2 separate regions of the Homo sapiens genome follow, and region 2 is linked to region 1. A link means that fine-mapping ties the variant in region 1 to the expression of a gene that starts in the linked region. Tissue or cell type: minor salivary gland. Region 1 holds a variant in brackets; the other region holds the start of a gene. All regions are shown on one strand. Distances are from middle to middle.

Region 1 (8,098 bases):
TGTCCTTCCTGAGTGGAGGAGTTAGGGGCAGTGGGGAGGGACTGGGGCTCAAATAGGCAAGGGCAGGAGGGCCTGGCGGGCGAGGTGGGAGGGGCGTAGCGAGGAGATGATGGGCTGAAGACAGCGCAGTCTGGTTGGCTACACTGAACAAATACGTCGACTGATGAGTAAGTAAGGAAACTGAGTAAATCAGTAAATTCAGGAGAAAGGGAGCCGAGTTTCTCAGTGCTGGAGAAGATGCTTACAAATGCGGAAATGGGGAGTGAAGGTTAGAAAAGACCCTGAGGTGTGGAACGGGAGGCACTGGCATGAATTCATGGTTTTAGAACCCCCCCACCCATAGATTCCCATGCCTGTGTGTGCACGTGTATACACATCTATGCTTTCCAGTTCTGTCCGATGAGAGGGCCTAGAGGCAGTGGTACTCCAGGAGCAATGAATATCCCAGATTTTGGTTTCTACCCATCATCCTCCTCTCAAAGGAACCAGGGGTCCTTGGGGATTTGGCTGATGCCAGGGGATGGAGAGTGTCAGTTGGATCTGAAGGGGAGGCTCGCAGCATGTGTGTGGCAGGTCAGACAGACCCAAGAGCCAGCTTGGTGGGGCATCCCTGGCTACCCTGGGGACACAGTGAGCGCCGAACTAAATAACATCAGGAATGGATCACCACGCAATGAGTAAGGGGAATCTGAGTCTATAGGGATACAGACCCAGAGGTAAACGGCCATGGCCACCCACTTTCCTACAGGAGAATGTGACTAGTGAGCGTGGAACATGGAACAAATGGTAGAGGTGGCTGACATGGCGGGAGCTGTGCAGAAGTTTGATGAGGAGGAGAATATTGGTCCAAACTCAGAAAACACTCATCAATCACAGAGAGAAAATGGCGAGTGAAAGTGAAGCCAGTGGCGGGCTGGGGGTATCCTGTGCCTGCTGATGGGGCACCCAGGATTAGGCCTCGAAGCTGAGGTTCCTGCTGGACCCTGGGCCCTGAGTCAGGTCCCCAGGAAAAACCAGAGGGAGCTCTGAGCGTTAGCCTAGAGGAGGTGAGTTTGGGACAAGGGCAGGAGAGGCAGGGAAAGGGGAGAAGCGGCTCCAGACTGAAGGAGCCTGAAGACACAGTGGAGGGTGACATGTCTTTCTGGATGGGAGCTGGGACCAGAAAAACAAAAGGGACATTGTTGGAAGGATTGCTGGAGCTGAATGGGGTGGGTGTGTGGGTTGGATGGTGAAGACTACACACTCACACATGCATGCACACTCACACACATGCACACGTGTGGGAGACGGGGCAGATGTGGTCAAATGTGCACAATTGGGGAATTTGGATGAAGAAAATATGGAAGTTTTTTGTTCTGCTTGACAATGTTTCTGAAACTTTGAAATAATTTCAAAATAAGTTATTTATTTTTATTTTGGGATGGAGTCTCGCTCTGTCACCCAGGCTGGAGTGCAGTGGTGTGATCTCAGCTCACTGCAACCTCTGCCTCCCAGGTTCAAGTGACTCTCCTGTCTCAGCCTCCCCAGTAGCTAGGATTGCAGGCGCTCGCCACCACACCCAGCTAATTTTTGTATTTTTAGTAGAGACGGGGTTTCACCATGTTGGCCAGGCTGGTCTCAAACTCCTGACCTCAGGTGATCCACCTGTCTCGGCCTCCCAAAGTGCTGGGATTACAGGCGTGAGCTACCATGCCCGGCCCAAAATAAGTTATTGAAAGTAGAAGAGGCTGGGCGCAGTGGCTCACACCCATAATCCCAGCACTTTGGGAGGCCGAGGTGGGCAGATCATGAGGTCAGGAGTTTGAGACCAGCCTGGCCAACATAGTGAAACCCTGTCTCTACTAAAAATACAAAAATTAGCCGGACACGGTGGCGCGCACCTGTAGTCCTAGCTACTTGGGAGGCTGAGGCAGTAGAATAGGTTGAACCTGGGAGGCAGAGTTGCGGTGAGCTGAGATTACACCATTGCACTGCAGCCTGGCTACAGAGCGAGACTCTGTCTCAAAAATAAAAACAAACAAACAAAAAAAGAAAGTAGAAGATGACATCACCAAGCTCCCTTTGTCCCCCCTTGTCAGTACGGCTGTCCCCCTCCACTGTCTGAGCCAGAGTCCCAGCTTCCCCAACCTGGCCCTTCCCCTGCCAGGTGTCATCTCTTTACCAACAGCTTCCCCGCCCTCTCCAGGTGTCACCTCTTTATCAACAACTTCCCCCCACCCACCCCCCGCCAGGTGTCATCTCTTTACCAACAGCTTCCCTCCCACCCCCACTGCCAGGTGTCACCTCTTTTCCAACAGCTTCCCCCAACACTGCCGTCACCTCTTCTCTAACAGCTTCCCCCCACCCCGCCAGGTGTCACCTCTTTACCAACAGCTTCCCCACCCCGCCAGGTGTCACCTCTTTACCAACAGCTTCCCCACCCTGCCAGGTGTCACCTCTTTACCAACAGCTTCCCCCAACCCCCACCCCCCATCCGCCAGGTGTCACCTCTTCTCCAACAGCTTCCCTCCTCCCCCGCCAGGTATCATTTCTTCTCCTCCGGCTTCCCAGTTTACACCCCTGGCCAACCCTATTGTTTGAGGCTTCGGACTTGTGGCTGCAACTGCCCATCCAACATCTCCATGTGGATGACTTGTGAGCGTCTCAGACTGAACATGTCCAGCCTGCGCACCCCATCCCCGCAGCCCACTCTTCATCAAGTTTCCCTCCCCCCAGCCCACTCTTCCTCAAATCCTTGGGGATTTGGCCGGCGTCAGGAAGCGATACCACCTCTGCCCAATTGGCCAAACCCTTGGAGTCGTCCTTGAAGTCTGTCTCTCCCTAGGAGCCCCCTCCATCTCATGCTCCTCCCCGTCCTTGCTCCGCCCCCGCTACTCAGCCTTCCCGTAAGAGCGCGCATGAGCCTGCGTCCTTGCTCTAAGCATTCCTATGGCTCCCCATCCAACTCAAGAGTGGTGTCTGCCAGGCCCCATCACCTCTGGCCTCACTGTACCTGTGGGCATGTTCACTGGCCCACTGTCCATCTTCCGCACGGGCATGTGAGCTCCACTAGAACTAGGACTGTCTCGTGTGCTGGTTCTGCCTGTCCTGCGTCCAGGCTCTCCCCTCCAGCGCACACCCGCCCGCTGGGGGCCGGCCTCACCTGCTTCCCTGCAGCACGACGCTGCCCTCCTGGGCGGCCCTAGGCCTCACGACATCCCTGCTCTGTCCCCCGACCCTGACTCAGGCTCCCCAACTCCTGGAGCCCTGAGGTCTTAGCTAACGTGACTTCTCCTCCAGGAAGCTTCCCTGAACCACATCCCAGACTAGAGAGGGCCTGTTCTGGTTCCCGTGCCCCCTCGCGCCCCTCGACTGTGGCCTTGCTGTCCTGTCCACTCCTTGTCCCTCCTCAGACTGTGATCACATGCCCGAGGCCCAGCACAGAGGAGTGCTCTTCAAATGACAGTGATGACCATGAGGGCTGCAGTCCTTCTCCCCGGCAGGCCTCTGCATCTCTCTGTCCCCTCCCCAGGTGTCTGTCTCACCTGCGTGCCCACCACTGTTTACCCCGGCTCATGTGCAAGGAAGGACAGAGTCAGCATCTGAGTGGCCATGGGCAAGGACTCACCGCATTTGCTGTCCTGTAGCACCTGGCCTGCGCCACATGCCCCCTGCCCCTCCAGCGCCTTGGCTGGCCTCTGGGCTACCTCGTACTCAGTGCCTGAGACCTGGACATAGAACTGCTGCCGGCCGATGGACTTGCGCAGGGTCTTGATGGCGGCCTGCAGGCTCTGTTCTGCTCGCTTCCGCAAGCAGTCCGCTTCGCATGTGTCTGCAGGGGCAGGAGAGACAGAACATGAATCGCTGGCAACCTTGCTAGCCGCTGCCTTCTTAGCTGAGGGCTCCCCCGTGCCAGGCCCTGCACTGGGCTCGGACCTCCTCAGCACATTCTCACAACAGTCCTGGGGCAAGGGGCCACTGTCATGCCCATCTGACAGATGAGGAGGCTGCGGACCTGGGAGGCAGGGCCTGCCCACGGCCACGCAGCAGATCTGAGTGCAATCCAGGCAGCTGCCACTGCACCACATCACCCCCCAGGGTACGACTCACGGGGCAAGAACGCCTTTCTGTCACTCAAAGACTCTTGGGGACTGCCACTGTCCCCAGGATAGTGTCCAGCTCTCTGGCCTTGAATCCAAGGCCCTTCAAGGTCCAGCCCCGTATGGCCTTGCCAGCCTCATCCCCTCCACTCTGACACTCCCTGTGGATTCCAATGTCTAGCCACCTGGCCCTACTTACTGCTTCCTGGACACCTCCTCCTCTCTCTGACCTCTGTGCCTTTGCCTATTCTATTCCCTCTGCCTGAATGCCATTCCTTGCCACCTTTTCCACCCAGTGAGCTTTGATTCTAAGCTCTCATTCAAATGGCACCTCTTCTGGGAAAGCTTCCTGATATGGTTTCAATATTTGTCTCTTCCAAACCTCATGTTGAAATCTGATCCCTAATGCTGGGGGTGGGGCCTGGTGGGAGGTGTCTGGGTCATGGGGTAGGTCCCTCATGAATGGCCTGGTGTGGTAGTCAGTTCTTGCTGGCTCTACTAGTCGCCACGAGATGTGACTGGTGAAGACATAGGCACCCCCTCCCCTCTCTCTTGCTCCCTTACTCTTGCTATGTGATGCCAGCTGCTCTTCACCTTCCTCCGTGAGCAGAAGCAGCCTAAGGCCTCGCCAGGCAGATGCTGCTGCCGTGTTCTCGGACAGCCTGCAGAGCCGAGAGCCAATAAGCTCTTTTCCTGATAAATTATGCAGCCTCAGGTGTTCCTTTTAGCAACGCAAATAGACTAAAACATTTCCTTTTTTTTTTTTTGAGATAGAGTCTCACTCGTCGCCAGGCTGGAGCACAGTGGCGCGATCTCAGCTCACTGCAA[T/C]CTCTGCCTCCCAGGTTCAAGCGATTCTCCTGCCTCAGCCTCCTGAGTAGCTGGGATTACAGGTGCCTGCCACCACACCTGGCTAATTTTTGTATTTTTAGTAGAGACAGGGTTTCACCATGTTGGCCAGGCTGGTCTTGAACTCCTGAACTCAAGTGATCCACCCACTTTGGCCCTCCCAGACTGCTGGGATTACAGGCGTGAGCCAGTGTGCCCAGCCAGACTAAGACATTTCCTAAGCCCTCCCGTGGGGGGCAGACCTCAGTTCTATGCATTGTTTGTTCTTGTGCCCCCACCACCGAGAGTCCCACCTGGCAATGGGTGGTTTGCACGTGCGTCTGCCTCTCTGGCTGAGAGTGTTACCTGGGTGGGGACTTTTCTTTCCACAGCGCCCAAGCCCACAGCCAGGCCCATACCACACTTATCTGCTGACAGATCCCATCTCTTCAACATCAACGACTCACAGGTTGACACTCACATATAGCCAAGAGCAAAGTGCTGCTGTGACACCCGAGCCAGCATTAGAACCTCCTTCAGGAACCAGGAAAGACAATCCTTGGCTCAACCATTCTAGGGGGGCTGCACCTATTTGTCCTCCCGGGTCCCAGCAGGAGTGTGGAGGGGCAGATAAGGGTCATGTGACTTTTGAGGTCACCTCGGCTCTTCTGTCTCATTGCCCTGGGCTGCCTCTTCTATCCTGGGCTGCAAGCGTTGACCCCTGCCAGCTCCCTTTGCTTGTGGGCCTGCCTCTGTCTCCAGAAGCTGGGCTCCCATCCCAGCCACAGCTGTGCTCTGGTGGGAGCCTAGCTTCATGCCTGGCAGGCCCCCGGCAGCGCCACCAGCCTGTCGTCCTCCTTCAGGCCTGCAGAAGCCCCCAGGAGAACCCCTCACCTACCTGAGGCCTCTTCCATCTTTGTCTCGATCTCAAACTCTGCTGTGATGTGGGACACCTCCTTGGATGGGGACTTGCGGCCACGGCGCCTCTTCTTGGAGGAGTCACACTTGAGGGTCACGAAAGTCACATGGCAGTGGTCTGGACGAGGAAAGGACCACTGTGGCAAAGGCGGCATGGGGCAGGGAGCAAGGTCCTACCAAGCCCTGCATACAGAGTGCCATTGGCAAGGACTTCCTGGTCCGTGGTGCAGACGGAAAAACTCAGGCTAGAGAAGGTCAGGGCTGGCTCGGGGTCTCAGGAGGGGCTGGTGGCTGAGCCAGGTCTCACGCCCGGTCCATCACGCTGCTGCAGGTGGAGGCATCTCATACATATTCATGAATGAGGCTGTGCCCCCAGCTCTGGGCCTGCTGAGGGTTTGGCCAGTGCAGACTCGGCTCTGGGCAGAGCCTGCTGCGTGCTGAGAGCTCTGTTAGGTTTGAGAAGGAATCTTCACGGGGACAGAGCTGGTGCCTTCCTCCGGGGCCCCTCGTACCAAGCTTGCCCTCCGCTGTTTCCCCAGCCTGCAATGTCCTTGGAAACTCTCATTCAATAAACAGCTGCCAGGTGAGAGAGACCTCCACCCTTGGAAACCAGACTCGCTGGACCCTGGGGCCCCAGCTCCCAGGCATGAGGACTCTCCTACAGCCCCGTTGGTGTGGGTTAGGAGCAGGGCGTCCCACTCACCCAGCAGCGGCTGCCTGGCGGTCTCCTTTGCTCGTGCCTGGCTGTGGGGCCGGAGGTGGCACTTGGCATCTCGGATCTTGAAGCGGGCCTTCTGTTTGATGGGGGTGGTGGGGGCATCTGGGGAAAGCCAAAATTCCCCCAGGTGGTGGCCTCTCCTGCAGGCAAGGAGGTGGTGGGGGACGGGGGCTGCCAGGGGACAAATCCATCTGGAGCTGGGGGTGGGGCTTGATCTGAGTCCCTGTGCCCCGACAGCTCTCCTGGGGTGGGGGACCCTCTCCTGCCCCATTTCTCTCCCTGCAAGGCCTAAAACAGGTGAACACATGGATGGTGGGGTCAAGCTCAAGCCCAGGGGCCACCCGCCAGAGGTCTTCTGAGAAGGAGGACAGGGATCCTCCTACCTCCTCCCCATCAGCAAGCCATGATTGTGCTTTAGGAAAGAGCGTAGAACAGAAGAGAGATAGGACAGCAAGGAAGGGAAGGGGCTTTGAAATACTATAGATCCAGGACTGCCGGTTCCTTGCAAGAGCAAATCATAGCCCTTGGACTAAAGAATCCTACCACCACAGGTGCTTAGAATCAAATCACATATGCATTAAATATATAGAAATGGGCAGGGTGCGGTGGCTCACGCCTGTAATCCTAGCACTCTGGGAGGCCGAGGCAGGCGGATCACTTGAGGTCAGGAGTTCCAGACTAGCCTGACCAACATGGTGAAACCATGTCTCTACTAAAAATACAAAAATTAGCCAGGTGTGGTGATGGGCACCTGTAATCCCAGCTACTCAGGAGGCTGAGGCAGGAGAATTGCTTGAACCTGGGAGGCGGAGGTTGCAGTGAGCCGAGATCACGCCACTGCACTCCAGCCTGGGTGACAGAGCGAGACTCCGTTTTAAAAATAATAATAATAATAATAAAGAAACATACAGAAATGCACCTATCTATCAAATCCAGCATCCTGAATAAGAAAAGCTGCTGAAGACACAACCCTCAGCTCCTTAGCTGGCAGGAGCTAAGGCTGGCTGTGCCATGCCGACCAAGCCCAGCGGGTCACTCCCAAAGGGCTGGGACTGTGCTGCACCTCGGCGCTTCTTGGCATGCTCTGCACGGCCAGGCCAGCTCTGACTCGGGAGAACCTAATAGCCACAGCAGATGTGGCTTGCTCCACCCATACAGTCTGAGATCTGTGCACTCACAGCACGTTAGAGTCCCTGAACCACTCTGGCTGTGACCTCAGAGCCGGAAGGGCCCTCCCACGGTCCCCTGACCCTGGGCTAGAACTCGGCCTGCAGCCTGCTGGCTTCTAGGTCCTGGGCCTGGCTCATCGCCAGCACCCCAGGCCACACGGAGCAGGGCCGAGAGCAGGAAGGTCTTCCCTGGGCGGTGCCCTTTCCTCCCCCGCCAGCATGTTGCTGGATGCAGTCAAGTCACCCAGTGGCATGCAGCATGGACAGGCCGGGGGGGTTACCTGAGCAGCTGGGCCCGAGGCCAGAGCTGGTGCCGTTGCGTTTCTGCAGCGCCTTGCCCTGCGGCCCTGGAACTCCGCAGCTCAGGACGTAGCTATTTTCCGAGTCTG
Region 2 (8,088 bases), 31 kb before region 1:
ACTGGGAGGATTAGGTGATTCATACCCAGAACTCAGAGTGGAGCCTGGCCACAGCAAATGCTCTATAAACACGTGGCGCCATTGTTACACTTCTGAGACTGTTTCTTCACTTGTGAGAGGGGGTGTCATCCACCTTTCAGGACACTGATGGAATGAAATCAAACAGCGTGCATAAAGTCCTGGCGCACAGTGGAGGCTCAACAAAGGCCAGTTCCTCCCTAAAACGTATTTCCCACTACTCGATTAAAAACGGCAGTTGGAAACTAGCTAAGTACTCAGGTGCAGGCAGCTTTTGTGCACTGGGCAGGACTTGCCCTTTGGTGGCGTGAGGATGAATCACTCAAGGTCTCGCTCAGGAAGCTCAGGCTGAGTAAGGTCTAGGCCACCTAAGAGTATCAGGTAAATTGCTCTGGGGCCTGGAGGGCCTGGGAAGACTTTATGGATGAGGAACCATAACCAGAGGCCAGCTTTGAAGAAGGGGAAGATTTAAACATGAGGCTACGGGGTGAGGATGGAAAGGAACTCCACGCAGAGGGAAGAGTAAGAGCGAAGGCCTGGAGGCAGATAGCCCAGGGTGGAGCAAACCAGGGGTCACATGAGAGACAAGGCACCTGAGACAAGAGCCATCCAGTTCTCCTTTAGCCCTCAAGGTGGGTCTGGGGAGGCTACTGCCTTCTCCAGTTTAGGGCTGGGGGGAGGCTCAGAGGGCTGGAATCCAGACCTCGGGCTTCCGCCCCAGTACTCCAAATCCCTAGGGGACAGCGTGAGGCTGAGGGTCAGAGAGCCTGTCTCAAGCCTGGCCTGGATTCAACCCAGCTGTGAAATGGGGTGCTGGGTTTCTCCTTCACCACAACCCCTTCATGGCAGGACTGGAAGAGCTCCCCAGGAGATAAGGGGAGTGGTTTTGCAACTGGGAAGCTTGTGCAGACAGAAGAGTAGACATTTTAAAAACATCTCTTCGGCCGGCCGTGGCGGCTCACGTCTGTAATCCCAACACTTCGGGAGGCCAAAGCGGGCGGATCACGAGGTCAGGAATTCGAGATCAGCCTGACCAACATGGTGAAGCCCCATCTCTACTAAAAATACAAAAATTAGCTGGGTGTGGTGGCGCACGTCTGTAATCCCAGCTACTCGGGAGGCTGAGGCAGGAGAATCATTTGAACCCGGGAGGCAGAGCTTGCAGTGAGCCGAGATCATGCCACTGCACTCCAGCCTGTGTGACAGAGCAAGACTCCGTCTCAATTAAAAAAAGAAAAAAATTATATATATATATATATATATATATATATATATATATATATATATATATATATGTATGTATCTTCAAGTTTCCCCATCCTTTCCAGGGCAGCCGGCCTAAGGTGAGGCAGGAGGGCTGATGGCCAGGGGTGTAAGGGCCCACAGCGCTGGCAGGTGCTGCTGCTGCTGGCGGCCTCCTCCACACCTGGGCCAGTAGCAGCAGGAGGCTTCACTCAGGAAGAGCTGCAAGTTTGTGAATGGTAAAGCAGTGATTCAGCTCTGTCCTTAACGGCTGGGGAAGGGTCACGGAAAAACACTGGCTGCCCCTTAGTAGGGCAACAGCAGGCAAGGCGGCCTGGGCAGGGGACGTGGCACGGTGGCGACCACCCTCTGTGTGCCAGGCATATTTCTCATGCCACCTCCCATCCTTCCAATACTGTGGGAGCCAGATGGTGTCTCACCATCCCCTTCCCAGATGGAGAACAGGTCTCAGACGGGCGAGTGACCGCCCGAGGGAGGGCGTGCTGCCGTGGAGGCTGGCTGGGCAGGAGCTGGTCATTCCCACTGTGCTCCTTCCACGCAGCCCATGGGAACCTTTTTGTCCTCATGAACAAACCAAGGTCCCTTCCACCCAGCACAGGCCTGGGACCAGAGTGGTCCTCGGAAAGCATATGGCAGAAGTGAGGGGCAGAGGAAACTCTCTGTTACACTGTAGCATAAGGAGGTGCCACTCACTGCACGTTTCCAGCAGGAAGGTTCCTAGTCCAATCAGGATTACACAGAGAAAAACTGGCTCAGAGACCGTAGAGTCTGGCCAGCAGCCAGGCTCAGGGACTCCTAGTTCCCGGCCCGGGTCCCTGTTCTTGGCTCTGGGGTTTCCACTTCATCACCTGCGCCACTAGGCTCATCTCCGTCCGGGAGACAGCACCTGGAGGAGATGTCGGGTCCCAGCTAAAGAAAACACCCCCCCCCCCGCCAGCCCGGGAAGGTGCTGTGGCCTCAGCCTCTGGGCACGCAATAAAAATCCAGGGCTCATCCCCAGCCAGGACAGTGGGGAACGCTTTGGAGTGGAGGAGGCAGGTGAGCCGGATGGGCCGTCCTCACAAAAAGGGAGAGAACCTAGAGGCTTCTCAATCTTTTCCATTTTTCTTTAGATTTCTCCTCCACCTCTCACAGCCTGTTTTCTTTAACCTGCAAGATGAGGGGACCCCGAGGCTCAAATCAAATGAAAAAACACCGAATTCTGTGAACCCAACAGTTACAGCTACACAAATTCACGGGGTTCCCGTTGTCCCTGTGAGGCAGCGGCTGAAAGAATCCCTCTGAAGGGACTCTCGGAGCCGCAGTGTTCTCATCTGTGAAGTGGGGGTGATGAGTTTCACTCCTCGCAGGGCTGTGTCAGGCTCGGGTGTGTGGAGGACCTAAAGTTCCCAACGCAGCCCTCAGCCGGTCTCGGGCCCGGGCAGATCAGGGCCGCAGGTACCCCGGTCTCCTGCTGTCACTCTTCGGCCCCCAACTCCACGCCGCTCCAGAGCTGCCCAGGACGCGCTCTGGGTGGCTCACCGCGGCTCCCGCCGCCCGGGAGCGCTCTTCCCTGTCCCGCGCCGCGGGCTCCCGCCGCGCTCCCACCCCGGCCGCCGCACGTGCCCGCCGCCCTTCCCCGCACCTCGTGCTCCAGCTTGTGCAGGAGGCGGCCCCAGTAACGTTCGGGGACCCCCGAAGCGCGCAGCGCCGGGCCGTGCAGCGCCGCGAACTCGGCCAAGGCCTGCGCGCCCTCCTCCGGCGTCTGGCCCGGGCTGCTACGCTCCGCAGGCCGGCGCTCGGGACCCCGCTCGGCCTCCATGGCGCCAGCACCCGCGCCGACTCCAGCGCCGCCACCGCCGCCGCCGCCCGCCGTCCGTCGGCCCTGCCCTCCCGCCTCCGCCCCCTGCCCCGCCCCGCCCTCCTCCCAGCGCCCCCCCCCCCGCCCCGCCCTCCTCCCAGCCCCCCCCCGCCCCGCCCTCCTCCCAGCCCCCCCCCGCCCCGCCCTCCTCCCAGCCCCCCCCGCCTCCGCCCCCCGCCCCGCCCGCCTCCCAGCACCCCCGCCCCGTCCTCCTCCCAGCCCCCCGCCCACCGCCCCGTCCTCCCCCCAGCCCCCCGCCCCTGCCGCGCCCCCTGCCCCCGCCCCCTGCCCCCCTCCCCACCGCCCCGTCCTCCTCCCGGCCCCCCCGACCCCTCCCCTGCCCCGCCCTCTTCTCGCCCCCTCACCCCGTCCCGCCCCGCCCCCAGTCCGCCTCCAGCCCGGTTTGCCGCGGCCCCCGGGCAGGCCCTGCGCATCGGCGGGGTGCGTGCGAGAGCGCGCGAGCTTGCCAGGAGGGGGCGCGCGTCTGCGACCGCGCCTGTGGTTTGGCTGCCGCCGTGTGCGCACGCGCACCTGATGGTGGCTGAGCTTTTCTCGCTCAGCGCGCGGCGACCCCGGGGAATGCCGGGAGGGCGGGGTGCCTACGTATAGGGCGCTGTCAGGACCGGAAAAGGCCCCACCGACGGCCCGGAAGGTGTCCTGGGGCCCGAACCCGGTGAGGCGGCGCTTCTGTGCCTGCACCGGGCACACAGAGCTCGCAGGCCCCCTGCCTTGGGAGCTCTCGATTCTTGTGAGCGTTTCACCAGATTTGGATGCTGCAAAATCGTGGCCCTTCTCAATTACTTATATTTGGATTCGGAATGTCAGTTGATCCAATTAAGACCAAGTGTACCCGTCAGAGGAATTTACTCCTACATGTCGGGATGTTTCGAAGTGCAGTTGAGCTGGGCGTGGTGGCCGCGTCTGTAGTCCCAGTTACTCGGGAGGCTGAGGCGGGAGGATAGCTTGAGCCCAAGAATTCAAGTCCAGCCTCGGCAACATAGCCAGACTCCCTCTTTAAAAGAAAACAGTTCAGTTATAGAATTTCAAAAGACATTCTCTTTTGAACTCTCATTGAGTTTTATTGCTCCATAGGGATACATTTCAATGTCTTCCTTTTTGCAATTTTGTAAGAATTGTAATTTGCTAAAAAACAAAGGCTGAAAATTTTTTGGAGCTTCAGATGCTATTTTGATAACATTTTTGAACTGAGTTTGAATAAAATGCACCAATTCACGGACTTGTTCAATTCCATTGTAGGAAGCAGGTGGGTCTGCAAAGGCAAAAATTTCCAAACTCAAGTTGGTGAGGGCTGCAGAGAAAAACATTTTATTTATTTATTTATTTTGGGATGGAGTTTTGCTCTTGTTGCCCAGGCTGGAGTGCAATGGTGCAGTCTCGGTTCACTGCAACCTCTGCCTCCCGGGTTCAAGTGATTCTCCTGCCTCAGCCTCCCAAGTAGCTGGGGCTACAGGTGTGTGCCACCACGCCTGGCTAATTTTTTGTATTCAGTAGAGACAGGGTTTCACCATGGCCAGAGGAAAACCCTGATTCCTCGGTTTTTGTTGTGGAAGCCAAGGCTGAGATTGTACCATTGCACTCCAACCTGGTCAACATAGCGAGACTCCATCTCAAAATAAATAATATAGTAAAACAGCATCACAATGCTAGGATGGGGCATGCTGGCTCACACCTGTAATTCCAGCACTTTGGGAGGCCAAGACAGGAGGATCACTTGAAATAAGGAGTTTGAGACCAGGCTGGGCAACAAAGCAAGACCTCGACCCTACAAAAAGAAATTTTTAATTAGCCAGGTATAGTGGTACACACCTAGTGCACCTCCCGCTTCCACAACCCTTCCATCGGTCCCGCTGGGGAAGACAGACTGAGTCTCAGTTGTGTCAGGTACTGGTCAGATTATGTGAACATTCCTGACCCAGCCCCTTTGACCAGGAGAATGTGAGGCTCTGACAGGGCAGTCCTCTTTCACATGCTCCTCCCCAAATGTAAACCCAGTTGTATCAGATCCCTACTTGGAACCCTTTGTGGTTCAACTCTTCACCTGAGCTCCAAGGCTCTGTGTGAGCTGGCACTGCCAACTTTTCCAGCCTCTTTTCATTACACTCTTCCCCTCACACTGTGAGTCCCTGTATCTCTGGTTGTCTTCAGCTCCTGGAAAGCATTGTGCTCTGTTTTCTGCCAGAAAGCCTTTCTCCCCATGCTCACTTTGTAAATCCTGACTCATTCTTCTCAGCTGAAATGTTGTCTTCTAAAGAGGCACTGAAGAATGTGTATTTAATCAACATAAAATTACTGCTCTGCTCCCATTACTGCCACCAACCCCCTCCCCCTCCAGACAATTGAAAAAAAGGAGAGAGAGAAACAGGGAAAAAAAAAAGAGTTTAAAAGTCCCTTCCATAGCCGGGCACAGTGGCTCATGCCTGTAATCCTAGCACTTTGGGAGGCCAAGGCGGGTGGATCACCTGAGATCAGGAGTTCGAAACCAGGTTGACCAACATGGTGAAACCCCATCTCTACTAAAAATACAAAATTTAGCCGAGCATGGTGGTGGGCACCTACAATCCCAGCTACTCAGGAGGCTGAGGCAGGAGAATTGCTTGAACCCAGGGGTGGGGGTATGGAGGTTGCAGTGAGCCAAGATCGCATCAACTCACTCCAGCCTGGGGGAAACTCCGTCTAAAAATAAAAAAGGCCCTTCCATCCTGAAAATCCAAGCCCAGGTTGACCTTTGGTCCCTGATAGCTTTTTGTTCTGAGAGCTTTGCCAAGGGTACTCATACAAAATGGGTTTTTCATACAACATGGAGCCTAAACCCAATACAATGACTTTGTGAAAGTTGATCATAAGAATTGGGTCACCAGGCGTGGTTGCTCACCCCTGTAATCTCAGCACTTTGGGAGGCCGAGGTGGGTAGATCACTAGGTCAGGAGTTCAAGACCAGCCTGGCCAAGATGGTGAAACCCCCGTCTCTGCTAAAACTACAAAAATTAGCCTTGGTGCGGTGCCTGTAACCCCAGCTACTTGGAAGGCTGAGGCAGGAGAATTGCTTGATCCCTGGTGGCAGAGGTTTCAGTGAGCCGAGATCGTACCACTGCACTCCAGCCTGGGCCACAGAGTGAGACTCCAACTCACAAAAAAAAAAAAAAAAAAAAAAAATTGGGTCATTCTTGTCATAATTAAAACAGAGTTGAGAAGCCAAGAGGGAAAAAGCATTTGGGGTGCAAGGCATTGTTCCCAAAATGTAATTCTCTGTAAGCCCGACTGCTGAAACTGCTTGTGGTAACCTAAAACCATTTATTGATAACTTCTGAGATAACTGACTGCAACTCTAGGACTAATAAGGCTCACCAAGCTGAGCTTACTAACTCCCCAAACCCTTACAAGTACCAGTGAACTTTCTCAAAGAGCAATATGTAACATTTCTTCTTCTTTTTTTTCTTTTTGAGGAAGGGTCTCACTTTGTTGCCCAGGCTAGAGTGCAGTGGCCAGTGACGCAATCATAGCTCACTGCAGCCTTGAACTCCTGGGCTCAAGCAATCCTCCCACCTCAGCCTCCTGAGTAGCTAGGACTACAAGCATGTGCCACTATGCCTGGCTAATTTTTAAGTTTTCTGTGGAGACAGGGGTCTCATTGTGTTGCTTAGGCTGGTCTCAAACTCCTGGCCTCAAGTGATCCTTCTGCCTTAGCCCAGAGCACTGGGATTGTAGGCATGAGCAACTGTGCCTGGCCCATTTCTCTGTTTTAAATAAAACTTCTAACCTTCTCTTTGTTCTTCGGACAAAGCAAAGACCACCTGGTCTGTAGGTGCACCCTGAATGGCAGTTCCTTCTTCACAAATAAAACATTACATTTAGGCCAGGCATGGTAGTTCATGCCTGTAATCCCAACACTTTGGGAGGTCAAGGTGGGCAGATTGGTTGAGCCCAGGAGTTTGAGATCAGCCTGAGCAACACAGTGAAACCCCATCTGTACAAAAAATACAAAAATTAGCCAGGTATGGTCGTGGGTGCCTGTAGTCCCAGATATTCGGGAGGCTGAGGCGGGAGGATTGCTGGAGCCCTGGAGGTTGAGGCTGCAGTGAGCCATGACTGTGTCACTGCATTCCAGCCTGAGCAACACAGTGAAGCCCTGTCTCAAAAAAACAAACAAAAAAACAAAAAACTACACACATTAAGTTTACAGAGCTGTCTCTACATTTTTGATTTTGACATACATGGTGTCAGCAGTGGGACCAAGCACTGAACCACTTTGGGGAGAATCTCACACTGGGGCCCTCTGACACCCTTCTACCTTTGTGAGTCACCTCTTCTCCCACCTGGTAAGTCTCTCTTGGACAGAACTCCTGAATTTGGTTTGAGTTCTCTCTTATTTGGGAAATGGCTGGGGAGGTGACTTTCCCTGTCCTGTGTGGGATATCTGCTGTTGGGGAGGGTTATTTTCCTCCTGTTGATCTCAGCTGTGAGGTCTGGATCTTGAGGTTTGGATGAGGGGATTTTTTTCCCCTCATTTGAAGATGACTATTATTCTTCCTGGTGAGTACATACTTATATTTTCTGTCTGTTTGTGTTTCTTTGGCCTTTGTGTACTCAACATTAAACTAAATCACCTTACTTGCTGGATAAGCCACTAAAAAAAAAAAAAAAAGGGAAAAAACCAATCTCAGTCACCTAGATATATTTAGTTAAAATGAGGTCTCAAAGTTCAAAGGCATGCCAAATTTTCTAGGACTCCAGCTAGTAATATATTCAAACATTATAGGGATCATTCAGTTTATTCTTTAAATTAAAAGACCATGGTTATAAAATCATACACTCTAAGTATGTATTTCTCATTGATACCTTGAGGCTAAAAAACAAGTCCATTCAGGACTCAAAGATTGCCTTCCTACAAAACACTGAGTCAAAGCTAGCTGAAACTGTTCCTTTCTGGAGCCTCCCCAATCCTTACA

The links. PIP is the estimated chance that this variant, and not a neighbour inherited with it, causes the effect.
Region 2: TTLL12 starts here. The variant in region 1 is fine-mapped to the expression of TTLL12 in minor salivary gland (GTEx, PIP 0.91).

The regions. Positions count from the first base shown.
Region 1 is chr22:43,214,648-43,222,745 of GRCh38, forward strand. It overlaps SCUBE1 (signal peptide, CUB domain and EGF like domain containing 1), which reads right to left. Exons shown (of 22, transcript NM_173050.5): 12 at 7,991-8,095; 13 at 6,526-6,642; 14 at 5,803-5,940; 15 at 3,608-3,811. Among named protein-coding and RNA genes, the nearest start is that of SCUBE1-AS2, 6.0 kb to the left of the region's middle. RefSeq lists an enhancer at 5,600-6,101. The variant T/C (reference allele first, on the strand shown) is at 4,908.
Region 2 is chr22:43,183,988-43,192,075 of GRCh38, forward strand. TTLL12 (tubulin tyrosine ligase like 12) reads right to left here and starts at 3,147. Exons shown (of 14, transcript NM_015140.4): 1 at 2,906-3,147. The coding sequence starts at 3,082. RefSeq lists enhancers at 1,798-2,302, 2,243-2,322, 2,333-2,392 and silencers at 2,773-2,992, 3,033-3,192, 3,441-3,560.